4 linked regions of the Homo sapiens genome follow. The protein of the gene in region 4 purifies or fractionates together with the protein of the main gene of each other region. This does not show direct contact. Each region holds a gene or a part of one and is shown on either strand. Other genes may lie near its edges.

Evidence for each region. Proteins that work in one complex are often made in the same cells at the same time.
Region 1: the proteins of SIRT3 (region 4) and PGAP1 purify together in Homo sapiens (affinity purification with mass spectrometry; one study listed by BioGRID and IntAct). This does not show direct contact.
Region 2: the proteins of SIRT3 (region 4) and MAP2K5 purify together in Homo sapiens (pull-down; one study listed by IntAct). This does not show direct contact.
Region 3: the proteins of SIRT3 (region 4) and PITPNA purify together in Homo sapiens (pull-down; one study listed by IntAct). This does not show direct contact.

The regions. Positions count from the first base shown.
Region 1 is NC_000002.12:196,832,708-196,837,286, forward strand, and holds the end of PGAP1 (GPI inositol-deacylase), read right to left. Parts: 3' UTR 297-4,579; downstream 1-296.
Region 2 is NC_000015.10:67,646,124-67,650,702, forward strand, and holds part of MAP2K5 (dual specificity mitogen-activated protein kinase kinase 5), read left to right. Parts: intron 1-107; coding exon 108-176; intron 177-264; coding exon 265-346; intron 347-4,579. UniProt on the Homo sapiens protein: Acts as a scaffold for the formation of a ternary MAP3K2/MAP3K3-MAP3K5-MAPK7 signaling complex.
Region 3 is NC_000017.11:1,535,293-1,539,871, forward strand, and holds part of PITPNA (phosphatidylinositol transfer protein alpha isoform), read right to left. Parts: intron 3,661-4,579; coding exon 3,577-3,660; intron 227-3,576; coding exon 149-226; intron 1-148. UniProt on the Homo sapiens protein: Catalyzes the transfer of phosphatidylinositol (PI) and phosphatidylcholine (PC) between membranes. Shows a preference for PI and PC containing shorter saturated or monosaturated acyl chains at the sn-1 and sn-2 positions.
Region 4 is NC_000011.10:218,030-223,687, forward strand, and holds part of SIRT3 (NAD-dependent protein deacetylase sirtuin-3, mitochondrial), read right to left. Parts: intron 1,572-5,658; exon of another isoform or gene 1,013-1,571; coding exon 803-1,012; coding exon of another isoform or gene 749-802; intron 1-748.

The DNA of each region.
Region 1 (4,579 bases), on a different chromosome or scaffold from region 4:
ACGCCATTACCCCGCCTCAGCCTCCTGTGTAGCTGGGACTACAGGCACCCGCTACCATGCCTGGCTAATTTTTTTTTTTTTTTTTTTTTTTTTTTTTTTAGTAGAGACGGGGTTTCACCGTGTTAGCCGGGATGGTCTCAATCTCCTGACCTCGTGATCTGCCCGCCTTGGCCTCCCAAAGTGCTGGGATTACAGGCATAAACCACCACGCCCGGCCAATAAATCCTTTTTAAAGAGTTTTTACCAAGATGGTATTATAGAGAGTATGTCAATTGGTAAGCAATCTTTTTACCATGTGCGTATTCAACCAAATTTATTTTTGAACATTCAGAACACCAGATTATCACAGATTAAAAAGAAAGCACCAAAAATTACTACACATTAATACCTGAGCAGAGACTGAAGGCAAATATTCATCTATTAAACCTACACCATAATGCTCAAACACAGGTAAAAACATTCACAACACACTCTACAGAATATAGTAAGTAGTACTTTTTGTGAATTACAATCACATAAATGTAATAATTTTAATTATACCATATAAAAATACACACAAAATTACACATAAATGTATTTAATATACTATACATTGTACAAAGTACTGGAGATCATGCATGTTTAAATGGAAAGATCAGCAAGGTGACAATCATTTTTTATTATATACTACAGGACAGGTTCCTCTGCACTTGTTAAGTGTTGTTGTTATGCACTGTACTTTCTGGATGGATGAGAAAAAAATAATCAATTTGCAAACAAATGATTACTGAGTCTATCTCAGCATAACACATAGGTTGTCCTCTATAAATTTTTTAACTATAGTATAAAAATTGATGCAGGTTGAGAGCCATTTATTTTATTACATACCCTTGCTCAAACTACCTTCATGTCAATAAGATCATGTTTTAAGGAAAGACATTTTCTTTGTATGTGTTTTTAGAGAAATCTATATTTTTGTCTGGCGAGTAGGTAGTGGAGGTAAAATGGGAAAACAATGTGTTGAGTTTACTTTCAAAATTGAAATTGAAAAATATACAACAACTGTGAGTACACAGAAATGTGGGCATCTTTTATCAGAGACCATGATTATCCTGTGAATAAAATAATTTGGACCTTAATATAAATTATATCCATTATTTTAAATAAGCACAGTAAAAATGCAAGTCTACATTTTTTTAAAAACTGAAGCCCGTTTTCTCTTGAAGCCTTAAAAATATATAGGAAGAAAAAAGAGAAGGAAAAATGAGAGGAAATAATGTTTTAAAATATACTACATGAATGAGTTTATTAATTATTAAAAATAATTATTGTGTAAATTAACCTTATTTGATATATATAAGCCTCAATAAGTTCAGAAAGAATGAGCACAAGTCAAAGAATTCATGTCTTTGACAGATTACTCATTAATAAGACAAAAAATTACATTTGAAGATTAGTTTTTCCAAGTGTGGTAAGTTCAGAACAATGCTACCACCTTCTCCTAGAATATTTTTTCAGAAACCTAAGCCAAACCTAATTTTCTACATCTATGTAGCGTAAGTCTACTTTAATTCAAAATGAGAACTCTGAAAATTAAGGGAGGCCTCTACAGCAATAGTTCTGGAAATACTAAAGGAAATACCAGTCAACTTTTATTTTAAACTTTTATTTCACCAACCTCGAAGACAAGGATTTGGGGCCAATTTGAGAGGACCACCCATAATAAAATGTACAGTTATAAAATTGCAGGGCACTCTTTATCATTTCAAGGCACACTCTGTTTTATCCCAAATGACTATAAGTTCAAGGTCACAGTGATGATATATATTCAATTTTGGTCTGGTTTCTCATGGGTATGTTGTTATATTTATAGCCAGTCATAAGCTTCAGAAACTATAATACAATCACTTCAAAATAATATGTCATTTTTATATTTTTAAAAATGTAAATATGTAACATAATTTCCTAATTTATATACAGTATAAATCGGGAGTTTTTTTTCCACTGCACAGTGGAGGAAGGGAAGGTTATTTCTACCAGTATTCCAACAAATACATATTTGATTATATAGAAAGCATGATTATGTTAAATACAGGCATCTCCTACTTAGAATACAATTATTCAACACAAAAGATGAACTCATTTCAAAGAACAATGTAAACTGAACTTAGGCCTTGTACACTATCTTTTTACTAATAACACCTATGGTCCCCATTAGAATAAACTGTCACTAAATCAAGGCCAGAGATTTCGATATTTGGCTTTCTGTCCTGCCTCCTTACTTCCAAGGCTATTTATGCAAACTGCATCAACATTACTGGGCAGAGAAATACTTAGTAATATTAAATTATGGGGAAAACTATAATATGAGGAACTGAAATTTCCTTAGAATCTTTATGGGGAGAAATTGAAGCACTTAATGCTGATAAAAAATAATTTCTAAGCCTATCACATTTTCTACTTTTCTTCCATGAGAACAACATATTAATGTTAACACTTTAGTATTAATATCTTGTTTTATAATATTTTCCTTTAAGATACGCATATTAAAAGGTTGTACTATGTTAGGTTCCAGTGGACAAGTTCCCCTGTGAAACATGTGACTATATAAAGAGACTGAATGGAAATACATAAAAAACAAAAGAAATTCCACAGTCACCTTTCAACTACATAAATGAGACACCTGTACTAAAATGGCTTGTACAACAATGTACATCACAAATTAAATCTGAAGCAAGATTACTTCAAATAATTATTTCAATGAATTGCTGAAAGATCATTACTAGGCAAACTTTTACCCAATAAAATCAGAAAACATTCAAGCAATCACACAAAATAGAACACACTAGGCTACAAATCTTGAATATTTTCAAAGAAAAATTAGGGTATGAAATATAAGTTTTCATGGTTTAAACATTTATTGTAAGTCCTAGATGAAACATACTGAAAAGATTATTTTTGCTTTAATCCTAATATGCTAAGAAAAGTTCATTGGCACAAATATCCAGAGGTATTTTACAGTTTCATTTACCTTTGGTGGCAAAGAGTATTTTGCTAACCGTATGGATACAGTCACATAGTTTCCAATGCACAGCTTTATGCTAAAGAGAATTCAAATGTGTCTCTTTTTTTTGCTAAAAAAGGGATGTAAAAAGTCCAATATGAAACAGAACGAGTGCAACACGAAATACAAAATATGCCTATCATGTAGGCTTTTGAACAGTTAATAGCTCTACGTGTTATCTATAAACATTTTTTACTAGTAACATCACTATTGTATAAATATTAAAAACAAAAATGACATTAAAAAATAGCATATGAACTTTACAAAAATGGCTACTTTTAGTCTTCCTAAACTAAAATCGGAATTCAAATACGCAAACAAATCTACACTAACTAATCAAAACACACCAACAGATACAGTTTTTCATAAGTGTTCAAAGTTACAATGTACAGAATGAGTACAGACAGATTCTGACTCATATATCAAGTCCTATACAAAGTCTTCAGAAATTAACTGATTAATTGGTATTTCAAAACACAGATTGTTTTTGGCAGCATAACATGCCAAACACTTTCAGAAAGTCCTGTACTTTATTTAAAAGTTATCAACCGTAGACAATTAAGACAGCTTAGAATATCACCTTTTGAAGGACATGTTATGAATTTACACTGTTAATGGAAAAACAGCTTGATTATTCTCACAATTTCCAAATGTTATTCTGTTGTCAAAACTAAGTTATTAACAGATAATAAATTCATATAAGTTCTTCTGTACTCAATACAATTTATCAAAAAATGTGACTTCTTGAGCATTTGCAGTATACATATTTGGATTTGGATTACTGACCTGACTTTTCTTTCCTATTATTCTTATTAAAAGTAAAGAATGGTAGTAGCTTCACAGCTTTCCTATTTCCTCAGGCTATTAAACATATTGTGAAAGAATGCATGAGTAATGGGTAAACATAAAAGTTCATTACAGAATTTAAAACATTCTTAGTTCAAAAAAAAACTGGAATAAAATTTTGGCTCCTAATCAACTTACTATGCTGTAAAAGTCCCTTCTACATTTACCTTACTAGGAAAGAAAGTTTTCTGGCAGGGTGTAATTTTATAATACAAACATATTACTGCTTTCTTATCCTGGCAAATGTCATGCACTCCAAATGGATTTTCCCCAGTAAATTTTACAAAGTATCTTGTTTCCTGTAATATACAAGTTCACAAATCCTACACAATGAGAAAACAAAAAGCAATCATGAAAAATAATCAACAAATGCCTAGTCATAGAAAGTCCCAACACATTTTCATTTTTCCCAAATGATTAATAATAACCAGTTACTAAACTTCAAATGCAGCACTGTAAAGTTTCACACTGAACCTAATAATAATGCAAGACATTATGCTAATTTGGACCTAACACCTAAAATGAAAATGTGGGTCAACTGATTTATCTGGGGGTTCAGAAATCAACAGCCCTAGTTTAATTCATAGTTTTGTGTTTCCTCCATTTCCCAGAGCTTTCAAGAACTAAACTGAAAACTGAATTTTACCACCTTTTATTTCCCTTGGCCACAAAGGGTGCTAATAAACAGCA
Region 2 (4,579 bases), on a different chromosome or scaffold from region 4:
GTGGGGAAGAATAAAGGAACTACCATGTTTTTAGTTCTTATATTTCATAGTGATTATAACTAATATAATTAGAAGATTAAAAAATATTAATACCTTTCTATATTTAGGTCATACTACTAGATATTACACTGGAACTTCAGAAGCAAATTATGTCTGAATTGGAAATTCTTTATAAGGTAATTTTTTCATAATTTTTATTTGTAAAGCATGCCTATGGTATTGACTTGCAGGTTTATAACTACTTTTGTCTTATTTTTGTTACAGTGCGATTCATCATATATCATTGGATTTTATGGAGCATTTTTTGTAGAAAACAGGATTTCAATATGTACAGAATTCATGGATGGTGAGTTTTCCCTTTTATAATACTTTTAAAATGATTTTTAGAGTATATAGTGCTTTAAAACCTGGTTTTGATATAGATATCAAATAGAATTAAAGATAATAAAATATGCTAATAATTACCTCATTTATACTCTAAGATTATTTCAGTGTTAGGGGTTCCTGGGGTTAAATATTTATAGCCGAACTGTAATTTTAAGAATTGAACTTCACTTTTATTGAAAATTTAAATAGAACAGATTAAATGCTAGTCTAATTGGTGGTTTGATATTTGATTCTTTTGCACAATCTGTCTTTACTTGCAAAACAGATGTTCTGTTCTTTTAATGTTTCAATAGCCAAAACAGATTTTCTTTTAAAGAAATCTATTAACCCAATGTCCTGTGTCTTTCAGAAAGAAATCGGTTCTTAATTGCAAGATAAGAAATTGTTTTTCAACACAGCTGTTTAGCCAAGATGTGTTTAATTTTCTTTGGACTTTAGCCCTTTCCTTCCCTCTCTATTTTTTTATTCATTTCTATTTTGGTAGTTCTTTCTTGACCTGAATATTACGGCAAAATACAGATTTCTAGGGACATATCAGTGAAATGATGTCATCATTATTATTATTTACCAATTTTAAATCTAAGCAGTCTTTAAATTTTACATATTCAGTTTTCCATAGTCTAGTCCATTAAAACACAACTTAAGAAAATATTGTTAGTTCCTTGTGGAGATTCTCAGTACATTACTAAAGCAATTAGTTTGTGCCCTGCAAAACTTTAATGAGCCAACATTGGTACCTTGATACTGTCATAAGGTGTACAACATGCTCTAAATTAGTTATAGTAGAATGTCAAAAATTAAAAATCTTACAGCCATATAGGTAAGTATGGTAACTGTGGAGACTGACCAGAAAAAGTGGATTCATTGAGCCAGTACATGTTACTGTGTTGTAACTTTTATCATTCTTTCTTTGAAGTCTTCAATTTTTCAGTTCTACTCAAACATTTTTGTTGAAACAGGGCACGGTGGTTCACGCATGTAATCCCAGCACTTTGGGAGACTAAGGTGGGAAGATTGCTTGAGCCCAGGAGTTTGAGACCAGCATAAGCAATATAGTGAGATCTCATCTTTACAAAAAAATTTTTAAAAATATGGCCGGGCACGGTGGCTTACTCCTGTAATCCTAGCACTTTGGGAGGCCGAGGCAAGCGGAGTTTGAGACCAGCCTAACCAACATGGCGAAAACCCGTCTCTATAGAAAATACAAAAATTAGCCAGGTGTGGTAGCGCATACCTGTAGTCTCAGCTACTTGGGAGGCTGAGACTGAGAATTGCTTGAACCTGGGAGGTGGAGGTTGCAGTGAACCAAGATCGCGCCACTGCACTCCACCCTGGGTGACAAAGTGAGACTCTGTCTTAAAAAAAATAAAAAAAGGAAAATTAGCTAAGCATGGTGGTACGGGCCTGTAGTCTCAGTTACTCTGGGGGCTGAGGTGGGAGGATTGCTTGAGCCCAGGAGATTAAGCCTGTAGTGAGCTGTGATCGTGCCACTGCACTCCAGTCTAGGCAACAGAGTGAGACCCTGTATCAAAAAACAAATAAATTAAAATTTTTTATTGAAATATAACTCAGATACCATAAAATTCACCCTTTAAAAGTGTACAATTCCATGGTTTTTGATATACTCACAAGGTTGTGTAGTCATCACCACTGTATAATTCCAAAACACTTTTTACCACCCCCAGAAAGAGACTTCCTACCTATTAGTACTCACTCTCTACTTTCTCTTTCCTCAAGTCCTTGGCAACCACTGATTTATCTTCTGTCTCTATGGATTTACCTATTCTGGACATTCCATATAAATGGAATCTGATAATATATGGCCTTTGTGTCTGGCTTCCTTTACTTAGTATAATGTTTTCAGTGTTCATCCATACTATTGCATATATGAGAACTTCATTCCTTTTTATTGCTGAATAACATTTCGTTGTATGGCTATACTACATTTTGTTTATTCTTTCATTAGTTGATGGACATTTGGGATAGTTCTACTTTATGCATAATTATGAATAATGCTACTCTATATATTTGTGTACAAGTTTTTGTGTGGACATACGTTTTCAGTTCTTTTTTTTTTTTTGAAACAGAGTCTCGCTCTGTCGCCTAGGCTGGAGTGCAGTGGGGTGATCTCGGCTCACTGCAACCTCCACTGCAACCTCCACCTCCTGGGTTCAAGCGATTCTCCTGCCTCAGCCTCCCGAGTAGCTGGGACTACAGGCGCGTGCCACCATGCCCAGCTAAGTTTTGTATTTTCAGTAGAGACAGAGTTTCACTGTGTTAGGATGGTCTCGATCTCCTGACCTCGTGATCTCCCCGCCTTGGCCTCCCGAGGTGCTGGGATTACAGGTGTGAGCCACTGCACCCGGTCAGTGTTTTCAGTTCTTTTGGGTATATACCTAGGAGTAAAGTTGCTAGGTCATATGGTAGCTTTATGTTTAACTTTTTAATAAACTACCAAACTTTTCCAATCTGTTTTACACCACTTTGCATTCATACCAGCACTGTATAAGGTTCCATTTTCTTCATATTTTTGCCAATACTTGTCATTTTGTGTCTTTTTAAAATTGTGGGCTTGTAGTGTGACATGGTATCCCATTTTGGTTTTGATTTAGGTTTCTCTAATGACTAATGATGTTGAGCATCTTTTCATGTGCTTATTGGCCATTTGTATACCTTCTTTTGAGAAATATGTTTTCAAATCCTTTGTCTATTTTTTAAATGAGTTATTGGGCTTTTATTGTTGAGTTGTGAGAATTCTTTATGTATTCTAATACTTGGCTCTTATCAGATATGGGATTTCCAAATATTTTCACTTATTGTTTATCTTTTCACTTTCTTTTTTCTTTTCTTTTCCTTTTTTTGAGCTGCGGTCTCATTATGTTGCCCAGGCTAGTTTTGAACTCCTGGGCTCAAGTGATCCTCCCACCTCAGCCTCAAGTTTTATTGTTTTAGCTTTTATATTTAAGCCTTTGATTTATTTTTGAGTTAATTTTTATATATGGTATGAGATAGGGGTCCAAATTTATTCGTTTGCATGTAGATATACATTTGTTCCAGTACCGTTTGTTAAAGACTGTTTTTCCCATTGAATTTTCTTGTTATACTTGTTGAAAATTGACCATAACATATATTTCTGTACTTTCAGATCAATGCGTATACATCTCGCATTGATCTAGTTGTCTATCTTTGTACCAGTACCACACCATATTTGATTACTTGTACTTGAAAACTCTGGATTATTATAGTTTTTAAGTTTCAAATCGAGAAGTGTAAGTGCTCCAACTTTGTTCTTTTCAAGATTGTTTTGGCCATTTTGAATACCTAGCATTTTCATTTGAATTTTAGAATCAGCTTGGCAATTTCTCCAAAAAAATCCAGCTGGGATTTTGATAAGAATTGAATTGAATTTTTAGATCAACTTGGGGAATATTGCTGTCTTAACATTATTTAATCTTCCACTCCGTGAACACAGATGTCTTTCAACTTACTTAGGTCTTCTTTAATTGTTTTTCAATGATTTAAAAATAATTTTTAGGGTATAAGTGGTAACTATTTGTTAAATTTGCTTCTAAGTTTTTTTAATGCTGTTTTTCTTAATTTCATTTTTGGATTGTTCATTGCCAGTGTATAGAACTGTAATTGATTTTTGTATATTGATCTTGTATTCTGCAACCTTGCTGAACTTGTTTACTAATGTTAATAGCTTTTTGTGGATTCCTTAGGGTTCTCTATATACAAGATAATGCCATCTGCAAATAGAGGTAGTTTTAGTGCTTTCTTTTCAATTCTGAATGTCTTTTATTTCCTTTTCTTGCTTAATTACCCTGGCTAGAACCTTCAGTACAATGTTGAATAGACTGATGAGAGCAGACATCCTTCTCTTGTTCCTGACCTTAGAGGGAGAGCTTTCAGTCTTTCACCATTAAATATGATGTTAGCCATGGGTTTGGAATAGTTGTCCTTTGTCAGGTTGAGGAAATTCCTTTCTATTTCTAGTTTGTTGAGTTTTTTTTTTTTTTAATTATGAAAGGGTATTAAATTTTGTCAAATGCCTGTTTTATATCTATTGAAATAATCGTGCATATTTGGTCCTTTATTCTATTAATATATGGTATACTATATTAATTGATTTTTGCAAAATGAACCAGTCTTGCAGTGTTGGAATTATTCCACTTAGTCATGATGTGTAATT
Region 3 (4,579 bases), on a different chromosome or scaffold from region 4:
CTGCATTAGAAACATACCCATGGGTACGCAAGTAACAACGGGCAGACCTCAGGCCGTCCCCAGCTCACCCCAGCCATGCCCCTCCTCCACAGGGAGCGGCCCACCCACATGCTGCCCAGCCCCCTGGCAGTGAAGGTGTGAATGGTACCTTCCAATTGGGGCCCAAGGGTCCTCGGCCTGTTTTGATAGATTTAAATTTTGCTGGGTCTTCCTCTGCCTTGTAATCCTGAGAGAAATTGTGGAATTGGGGTTGGAGGGGAGTGGGAGAGGGAGTGAGAGATGGGGAGAACAGATCTTTCATTAGCATTCACTCCATACCAGATCTTGATGCTGATGGCACAAAGCAAATATGGGAAAATGTTATAAACAAGATGTAGAACTGTTTACATTAGCCTCAGAGGAGAGTTCTATGTGATTTTCTCCGATAGGGTTTGTTTTCCATTTTGCCAGTGTGAAAGTATCACCAGACTGTCTGAGCAGGCACATATTTACCGTGTTGAAGACAGAGACTTTCAACCTGGGGTGAGCATCCAGATCACCAGGGAAGACCTTTTTAAAACACAGATTTTTGAGTCACTCCAACTAAAACCCAGTGACTGAGAATATCTGCAGGTGACGGCAGCACAGATTTGTTTTTTGTTTTTTTAAATCTCTGCAAGTGACTCTAAAATACAGCCAGCGCTCAGAATACCCGGCTGTCATTCCTTAAATCTTCCAGTGCAATCTCCCTCTGGCTTGTTTTAACAAAATCATTACTGGAAATGTTCAGTGTATGGAACCTATCCACTACTGGTGAGTCTCACTTCACAGATTTATAATGCAGTCAATTTCCTGTGTTAATTAACCACAACAAAAGTTTAATTTTCAGCTGTCCCTCTACATTGACTAATGTGGGCTCAGGAGATACAAACTTATAGCATCTACTTAACAAAAATAACAAAGATAATAAATTTCTCTCTCTCATAAAGTATTTCCCAAAGCTGAGAAGTTTTTTTTTTTTTTCTTTTTTTTTTGAGAGGGAGTCTCGCTCTGTTGGCCAGGCTGGAGTGCAGTAGCGCGATCTCGGCTCACTGCAAGCTCCATCTCCCAAGTTCACGCCATTCTCCTGCCTCAGCCTCCCCAGCAACTGGGACGACAGGTGCCCGCCACCATGCCCGGCTAATTTTTTTTGTATTTTTAGTAGAGACGGGGTTTCACCGTGTTAGCCAGGATGGTCTCGATCTCCTGACCTCGTGATCCGCCCACCTTGGCCTCCCACAGTGCTGGGATTACAGGCGTGAGCCACCGCGCCCTGCCTTATTTTTTTATTTTATTTTTTTGAGACAGCATCTCACTCTGTTGGCCAGGCTGGAGTGCAGTGGCACGATCTCAGCTCACTGCAACTTCCACCTCCTGGGTTCAAGCGATTCTCCTGCCTCAGCCTCCTGAGTAGCTGGCATTACAGGCGCCTGCGACCACGCCAGGGTAATTTTTGTATTTTTGTAGAGACGGGGTTTCACCATGTTGGCCAGGCTGGTCTCAAGCTCCTGACCTCAGGTGATCCACATGCCTCAGCCTCCCAAAGTGCTGGGATTACAGGCATGAGTCACTATGTCCGGCCGATTTTTTTTTTTTTTTTTTTTTTCAGATAGAGTTTCGCTCTGTCGCCCAGGATGAAGTGCAGTGGCACAATCTCAGCTCAATGGAACCTCCGCCTCCTGAGTTCCAGTGATCCTCCTGCCTCAGCCTCCCAAGTAGCTGGAATTATAGGCATGCGCCACCACGCCCAGCTAATTTTGTATTTTTTTTTTTTGACACAGTTTCACTCTTTTTGCCCAGGCTGGTGCAAAGGCATGATCTCGGCTCACTGCAACCTCCGCCTCCTGGGTTCAAGCGATTCTCCTGCCTCAGTCTCCTAAGTAGCTGGGATTACAGGCACCTGCCACCACGCCTGGCTAATCTGTTGTATTTTTAGTAGAGACAGGGTTTCACCATGTTGGCCAGGATGGTCTCGATCTCTTGACCTCGTGATCTGCCCACCTTGGCGTCCCAAAGTGCCGGGATTACAGGTGTGAGCCACCGCACCTGGCCCTAATTTTGTATTTTTAGTAGAGACGGGGTTTCACCATGTTGGCCAAGCTGGTCTCAAACTCCTGACCTCAAGTGATATGCCTGCCTCGGTCTCCCAAAGTGCTGGGATTACAGGCGTGAGCCAATGTGCCCAGCCTCTGAGGAGATTATATTTATGTGTGCTTTAAAAAATAAATATTCACCATCACTGCTTCCCTCCACTCACACAGATCAACCAGAGTTGACAAAATACTCAAAGAATCATACTTTTTGCTAGTATCCAGTTTGAGAAAATTCATCAAGCTGCATACTTATATTCACTTTGCTGTATATGTTAAACTTCCATAAAAAGCTTTTTGAAAAATCCACCAACGTTTTGAAGGTGGGGGTTGGGATATTGGGCAAGGAAGCACAAGATGGTTTTTATATCTTTTCGGAAATGCACAAATCAAAATAACTTTGTGTGTGTGTGTGTGTGAGATGGAGTCTCGCTGTGTCGCCCAGGCTGGAGTGCGATGGTGTGATCTCTGCTCACTGCAACCTCTGCCTCCCGGGTTCAAGCGATTCTCTTGCCTCAGCCTCCCAAGTAGCTGGGATTACAGGCACGTACCACCAGGCCTGGCTAATTTTTGTATTTTTAGTAGAGATGGGGTTTCACCATGTTGGGCAGGATGGTCTCGAACTCAGGACCTCAGATGATCGGTCACCTTGGCCTCCCAAAGTGTTGGAACTACAGGCGTGAGCCACCGTGCCAGGCCCCAAAATATCTTAAGTGCAGAGTGACCACAGGAAAGAGGTATCACACCCCTGGGATACAAAGAGCAAACACACATTCCCTATCAGTGGGCAGAGAGTTACATTCCTGTCTTTTAATCCCAATGAGGCCTCTGCCTAGTAAGAATGGTAATGAATGAGGAGGAATCTAACCCCCTCATTCCCTGAGCAAATACTTCTTGGGTGCAAAACAGTGAGCAAGCCAGACCTGGTCCCTCTTTTGACCAAGGTCATGGTCCACCAGTGGACTGTCCTTTTCCAGGGGTCTGCTCCAGTGTGTGTTACTCTGAAAAGGCGCCACCGACTTCTGGAGGGCAGGGGACCTGTCTTTCCCTGCATTCTGCATCCCTCACCTGGAACCCAGAGATCCTGACAATATTCCACAACCCAGTAGGCAGGAAGTAAATGTTTTTTTAATTACTGAGTTGGAAAAATAAATTTGAGAAGTGGTGCTCCGATTTTTCAGGCTAAGCATCATTTTAGCAGGGCAAAATACTCTAGCTACAATACCTACTTAGTCCAGTAATAATTTTCAGAGGCCAAACAGGGCACACAAATTTGGGCCACTAATTTTCTGGTGGCATCCCCAACTCAAGACAAGAAATCTCCTAATACTCACTTTTAAAAATAAAACAAGCAAGACACATCAGAATTTCCTTTTGTGCCAAGTTGGGTATGGTTTCCTGGTTTCTTTAGCATTGAGAAGTCATTTCTGCGTCTCGAAGGCCACCCACGTCTTTAAACGGATCCTACCTTGCTGAGCACTTGGCTTCGATCTGCAATGTCTATATATACGGCTTCCACGTGTTTCCACGCCTCAGGCTCCAGCTTATGCACCTGTGGGAACAAGTGGGGAACCACTATGCAGTTTTTGTCAGTTATAAAATATCCTTTAGCCAGAATGGACACCTAGGAACTGCCATTCCCATAGCCACAGATGTAAGATTCCTAATGATAAGTAATTATACAATTACATACAAAATTATCCAAAGAAATGGGAGAATGGATTTTTTTTTTTAAGAGATGGGGTCTCACCGTGTTTCTCAGGCAATGGCTATCCACAGGAGTGATCACAGCACACTCTAGCATGAACTCCTGGGCCGGAGTGATCCTCCTGCCTCAGGCTCCTAGTGATCCTCCTGCCTCAGCCTCCTGCCTGGGACCGAGGGATCCTACTGTCTCAGCCTCCTGCCTAGGCCCGAGTGATCCTCCTGTCTCAGTCTCCTGAGGAGCTGGGCCCGAGTGATCCTCCTGTCACAGCCTCCTGAGGAGCTGGGCCCGAGTGATCCTCCTGTCACAGCCTCCTGAGGAGCTGGGCCCTAGTGATCCTCCTGTCACAGCCTCCTGAGGAGCTGGGCCTGAGTGATCCTCCTCTCTCAGTCTCCTGCCTGGGCCTGAGTGATCCTCCTGTTACAGCCTCCTGAAGAGCTGGGCCCGAGTGATCCTCCCGTCTCAGCCTCCTGAGGAGCTGGGCCCGAGCAATCCTCCTGTCACAGCCTCCTGAGGAGCTGGGCCCGAGTGATCCTCCTGTCTCAGCCTCCTGAGGAGCTGGGCCTGAGTGATCCTCCTGTCTCAGCCTCCTGAGGAGCTGGGACTATAGGTGCACAACACTGAACCCAGCTGGATTGTCTGTTTGTCTGAGATGGAGTCTTGCTGCGACGCCCAGGCTGGAGTGCAATGGCGCGATCTCGGCTCACTGCAAACTCTGCCTCCCGGGTTCAAGCGATTATCCTACCTCAGCTTCCCGAGTATCTGG
Region 4 (5,658 bases):
CTTTGCCTTCCACTATGATTGTGAGGCCCCCACAGCCATATGGAACTGTGAGTCCATTAAACCTCTTTCCTTTATAAATTACCCAGTCTCAGGTATGCCTTTATGAGCAGCCAGAGAACAGACTAATACACTGGTGAAATCCCCTTTGGACAGTGTTACACCTGCCTGTAATCATGACACTGGACTTTAAATGCTTAATGCTACCACCTCCCATTGAAAACCCTTAATATCAAGGCTACACATGCTACATGATTCTTATGGGAAACTGCATTTTCTGTAACTTCACTTGTTTATAGGCGGTTTGAAATCTCTTAGAAAGCATCAAGGCTCTTTGGCTTTCCTCAGCGGATTATAATTGATCAATGGCTCTCATACCAATTACTTCCGAAAAGCATCACTCATGTAGCCTTCATCCCACATAGATGCAGAGAACTTTAGCTTCTCAAAGTTCTTTAACCCGTATCATCTTAGAATCACATACCAGGCCTTAGAGGGACACTGTTGGCTGCTTTATTTTAGGGAGTGAAGGTAACGCCTATAGTCTGTTAAGAATACAGACTCATCAGCCCTGAGTGTCTGGACCGTGTCCCTGCTTGGCCTGTTAGCATCTGTTTCCTCATCTCTAAATGGAGGTATTGAAAGTAACACCCAGTCAGGTCCAGGTAGTGCCTGGTGCAGGATTCACAGCATCATCAGCTATTACTGTTACTGTGTTAACCAACGGGGCTCCATATCAGGTGGACCATACCCTAGAGCAGTGAGAAGGGCAGCCCCTTGGATGGTCCTCCTCAGCAGTCTGTACCTTCCCAGTTTCCCGCTGCACAAGGTCCCGCATCTCTTCTGTCCAGCCCAGAAGCTCCACTAGGCTTTCCACGCCGTGAACCACGTCCCCCAGCTGGGCCACGTCCCTGCTGCGAGGATGCCAAGCCAAGGGCCCCACCAAGTCCCGGTTGATGAGCAGTCGGGGAACTGAGCTCCGCACGGCCTCGGTCAAGCTGGCAAAAGGCTCCACCTGAAAAATGGGCCAAACGTGAGGGGCACAGTGTCCACTTTACAAGCTCCTCAGGATGTTTCATGCCACAGCCACCGAGGCCTTGGAGGAGCAGCAGATTGGCAGTCAGAGCCTGCGATATAGGGAAAACCCACCACCAATCTCATTTCTTCAGCTGAGCTCCTGCCGCTTGGCCTCCGTGACGGTTTTCTCCCCTCCGCCTCTCTCTCTCTCTCCCACTTCTTGCTGTTTCCACACATCCTTGCTTTTCCCCACCTCCGTTCCAAGGCTCATCAGGGATCCAACCTTCCTGCCTCCTCTTTGTGAGCACGTTCTGTTCTCCCTGTCCTCCCCACCTCGCTGTCTCCCAGCATGACGCAGAGGGACAACAGCACAGACTCGTCCATCTCCTCTGGCTAGCCCTGCTTGCTCTGACAGCCACCACCAGCATCGGGCACCCAGACGAGCTGGTGCCCCCGAGCAGGAGTTACTGTTACGTCTCTCCATGGTCTTCCCCACCCAGCCTCTAGAGAGGCCTAGCTCGGTGCCATCAGGCTTCTTCATACAGCTCTCAAAGCTTCTTTTAAGAGGAACAAGGTAAAAAAATGGATACATTAATAAATGGCATTAAAACTGGCTCATTATCTGGGAGGAAAATACTCCATTCCTACCTCCCACTGAAAAAAATTCAAATGGATTAAAGGTTTCAATGTAAACAAAACAGTTCTTGAAGAAAACTAAGGATTTACAAGTAAGGATAGGGAAGAACGTTCTAGGCGTAAAAACTGAAGTCAGATAAGGCAAAGGAAAATGACAGATCTGACTATGTAAATACTATTATCTCGGTATCTACATAAAACTACTATGTAGAAAATTTAAAATTTTTAAAAACCTCTCATCATCATAAACTGCAAAAATATTTACAACATATGACAATAGTTTATATTGCTAATTGATAAACTCATTTATAAACATATAATTTATGAACTAATTTATAATGCTAATTTATAATGAAATTTATATTAACAGCTGGGCATGGTGGTTCACACCTATAATCCCAGCACTTTGGGAGGCCGAGGCGGGCAGATCAGCTGAGGTCAGGAGTTCAAGACCAGCCTGGCCAACATAGTGAAACCACGTCTCTACTAAAAATACAAAACTTAGCTGGGCGTGGTGGCACGCACCTATAATCCGAGCTACTCGGGAGGTTGAGGCAGGAGAATGGCTTGAGCCTGGGAGGTGGAGGTTGCAGTGAGCCGAGATCGCGCCACTGAACCTCCAGCCTGGGAGACAGAGCAAGACTCTGTCTCAAAAAAAAAAAAAAAAAAAAGAAAGAAGTTTATATTAACATTAAAATGTAATTATATTATTTAATTTATACTAAAATTAAAACTAATTTATATTGCTAATTTATAATGACCCAATGAAAAATGGTCAAGAGGTACAAATATACAATCCAAAGAGAAGAAACACAACTGGCAATAAACATGAAAAGATGAACTTCATTCTTTACTACAGAAAGGCAAAATCCGCACCCCCCTCCACACACACACATGCATTTTTTAACCAATTTGATTTGTGTGATTTTGGTTTTGGTGAGGATGTGATAAAATGGCTACATAAAAACACAGTTTGTGGCAGTGTAATTGTTACATCTTTCTGGAAGGCAAGTTCTCAATATTTATCAGCATTTACCCTTCAGGAGTTCTTGCATGGGTAGATAAGGATGATACACAGGGATATTCACCACAGCATTTACCCTTCAGGAGTACTTGCATGGGTAGATAAGGATGACACACAGGGATATTCACCGGAAGGCAAGTTCTCAGTATTTATCAGCATTTACCCTTCCAGAGTACTTGCATGGGTAGATAAGGATGATACACAGGGATATTCACTACAGCATTTACCCTTCAGGAGTACTTGCATGGGTAGATAAGGATGACACACAGGGATATTCACCGGAAGGCAAGTTCTCAGTATTTATCAGCATTTACCCTTCCAGAGTACTTGCATGGGTAGATAAGGATGATACACAGGGATATTCACTACAGCATTTACCCTTCAGGAGTACTTGCATGAGTAGATAAGGATGATACACAGGGATATTCACTACAGCACGGGATCTCATTCTGTTACCCAGGCTGGAATGCAGTGGCATGATCATAGTTCACTATAACCTCAAATTCCTGGGCTCAAGCAATCCTCCTTCCTCAGCCTCTCAAATAGCTGCAACTACACAGACCATGCCTGGCTATCTTTTTATTTTTTGTAGAGACGAGGTCTGACTATACTGCCCAGGCTGGTCTCAAATGCCTAGCTTCAGGCAATCTTCCTGCCTTGGCCTCCCAGAGTGCTGGGATAACAGGTGTGAGCCACGGTGCCTGGCCCAGCATTACTTTTAATGTAAAAATTATATACTATTTATTATCATTGTCCATCAGTAAGAAATTGCTTACATAAATTTTGTATTAAATCCACAAAATCTATGTTAAAGCTCTTGTGGCTGAATATGTTTCAGAATTTTTGAGATTTTAGAAAAGATCATATGGTTTACATCCCACGTTATGTCACACCTAAAGGGGATCTGGAGTGGTACTCCACAGTCAAACACATTAACATTTCGTCCACAAAGCACATGAGATAGAGTCTGTGCGTGACACCAGCTCATTCAGTTCATGATGGCACCAGCCTTACAGACATGGGTTTCTCAGTTGGGACCTCATATCCGTGTAAGGGAAACTGTTGGCATTAACAACGCAGCACATCTCCATGGACTCACATTGTTACGTGAAAACAGCAGGCTGCAGAATAGAATGTACAGTGCTGTCCAACTTTTAGTTTAAAATTACCATCTGTACGTATGCATTTGTACAAAAAAAAGAAAGCTGAGAGGACACAGAATAAAATGCTAACAGTTGGTGGGATTAAAAAGTTGATCCTTTGCTTTATATCTTTATATAATGTACGAATCTTTTCAAAGACACACATGATACACTTATAATCAGGAAAAAGGCCATTTTCATTTCACTTCAACAATAAAGATGGCTGGTGGCCCAAGTGTCCACACCTGGTGGCCAGCACGGTCAGCTGGTCTCAGCCCACACTGTGCTGACCACCATGGCCCCTCTGACTGCTCCTCCTGTGTCTGTCCCTCCATCCTAGGCCTAGCATGGCATTCTCATGTCTGTCCACACCCTGGGCTCTCCTGTCTGCTCACTCCAGCACCCCAGCTCCTGCCTCTGGGCCTTCCTGGACTCCAGACTCATGTCCACCTGCTCAACACCTCCAGTCCGCAGCACATCCTCAAATCCGTGGAAACAAGGCTGAGTTCCTGAGCTCCCCCAAACCCACCTACCAGGCTTCTCCATCTCAGGAAGCGGCGGCTCCGTCTTTCCAGCTGCTCCAGCCACAGCCCTGGGGTCCTTGGGAATCCACGGCCTCCCATGCACTGTGCCAGCGTACCCACTCTGCGTTCACACACACCCAGACTCCAGCACCCCTCAGCCTCTGCTGGCTTTACCTGGCCCCCAGCCAGTGCCAGCCGGTGATTACCTACAAGGGCCCTGCTGGGTCTGCTGCTCCCAGTCTTGCCCCCATGGTGGGCTCACAGCCCAGCACCCAACGGAGTCCTCTCAACTTCAGACTCTGGCCTGGAACCCAAGCTGAACCCATTCACCTTCTGAGGTGGCGCCAGCCTCCCATGAGATGACACTTGTGCCCCACCTTCTTCTCTGCTCCAGCCCCGTGGCCATCAATGCTGACTTCGCCCCACCCTCCTTGCTGCTTGTCACCTGTGCAGTGTCCCCTGCCAGACCCTCCTCACCTCGGTAAACTCTTAGATCCAACTCCACCTGCCTGACTTGACACTGCAGCTGGTTCCCAACCCTTCTAGCCTTTCTATCCTACTTGTTATCTTTCTCATAACATCAATCATCTCCTAACAAACTATATAACTTCTTACACTGACATCTGACCGTGTATGTCCAAAGCACTGGAGCAGGGCCCAGCACACAATGAATGCCTGAACAAACACATGCTCTGGGCCCCTGTGGCTGCCCTGGGCCCCTCTGAGCACAGGTCTTTCTGGCCCTTCTGTCCTCGGTGCCTACATCCAGTCACGCACACACTGACTTCATGGTCTCATTTCTTGCTCTCATCACAGCTTTTAGGAATTTCCTGAGCTGCAGACGCAGACGCAGAACAGCTGCTTGAACACATCCAGGGCATGTTTCCCGACACCTCAGACACACACAGAACCGAGCTGGGCATCCTCCCTCCCAAATCACGCCTCACCAGCAAGTGCCCTGACCTTACAGACCAAGCCAGACGCCTCCTTCTCACGTCCCCAAAACATCACAGACTGCGAGTCCAGTCCCCCTCCTCGCCATCCCTCAGGCGACCACAGCTCCACCTTCTCCAGGACCAGCCTCCTGGCACTGCTTGCTCCACTCTCCACTCCCCAAAGGCCTCCCTGACCCCAAGGGTGCAGCTACGTCCCCGGGCCAGTCCCTGTGGATTTATCACTCCTCCCACTGCAGCATCAGTATTCCTGATCTGACCTGGGAGGCCCTGCCCCTCCACCTCGCCCCCACACCCCCATCCTTCTCCCTTCTCCTCACACGTGGTGCCCCACCCACACCTATACCACCTCCAAAGCCCAGCAG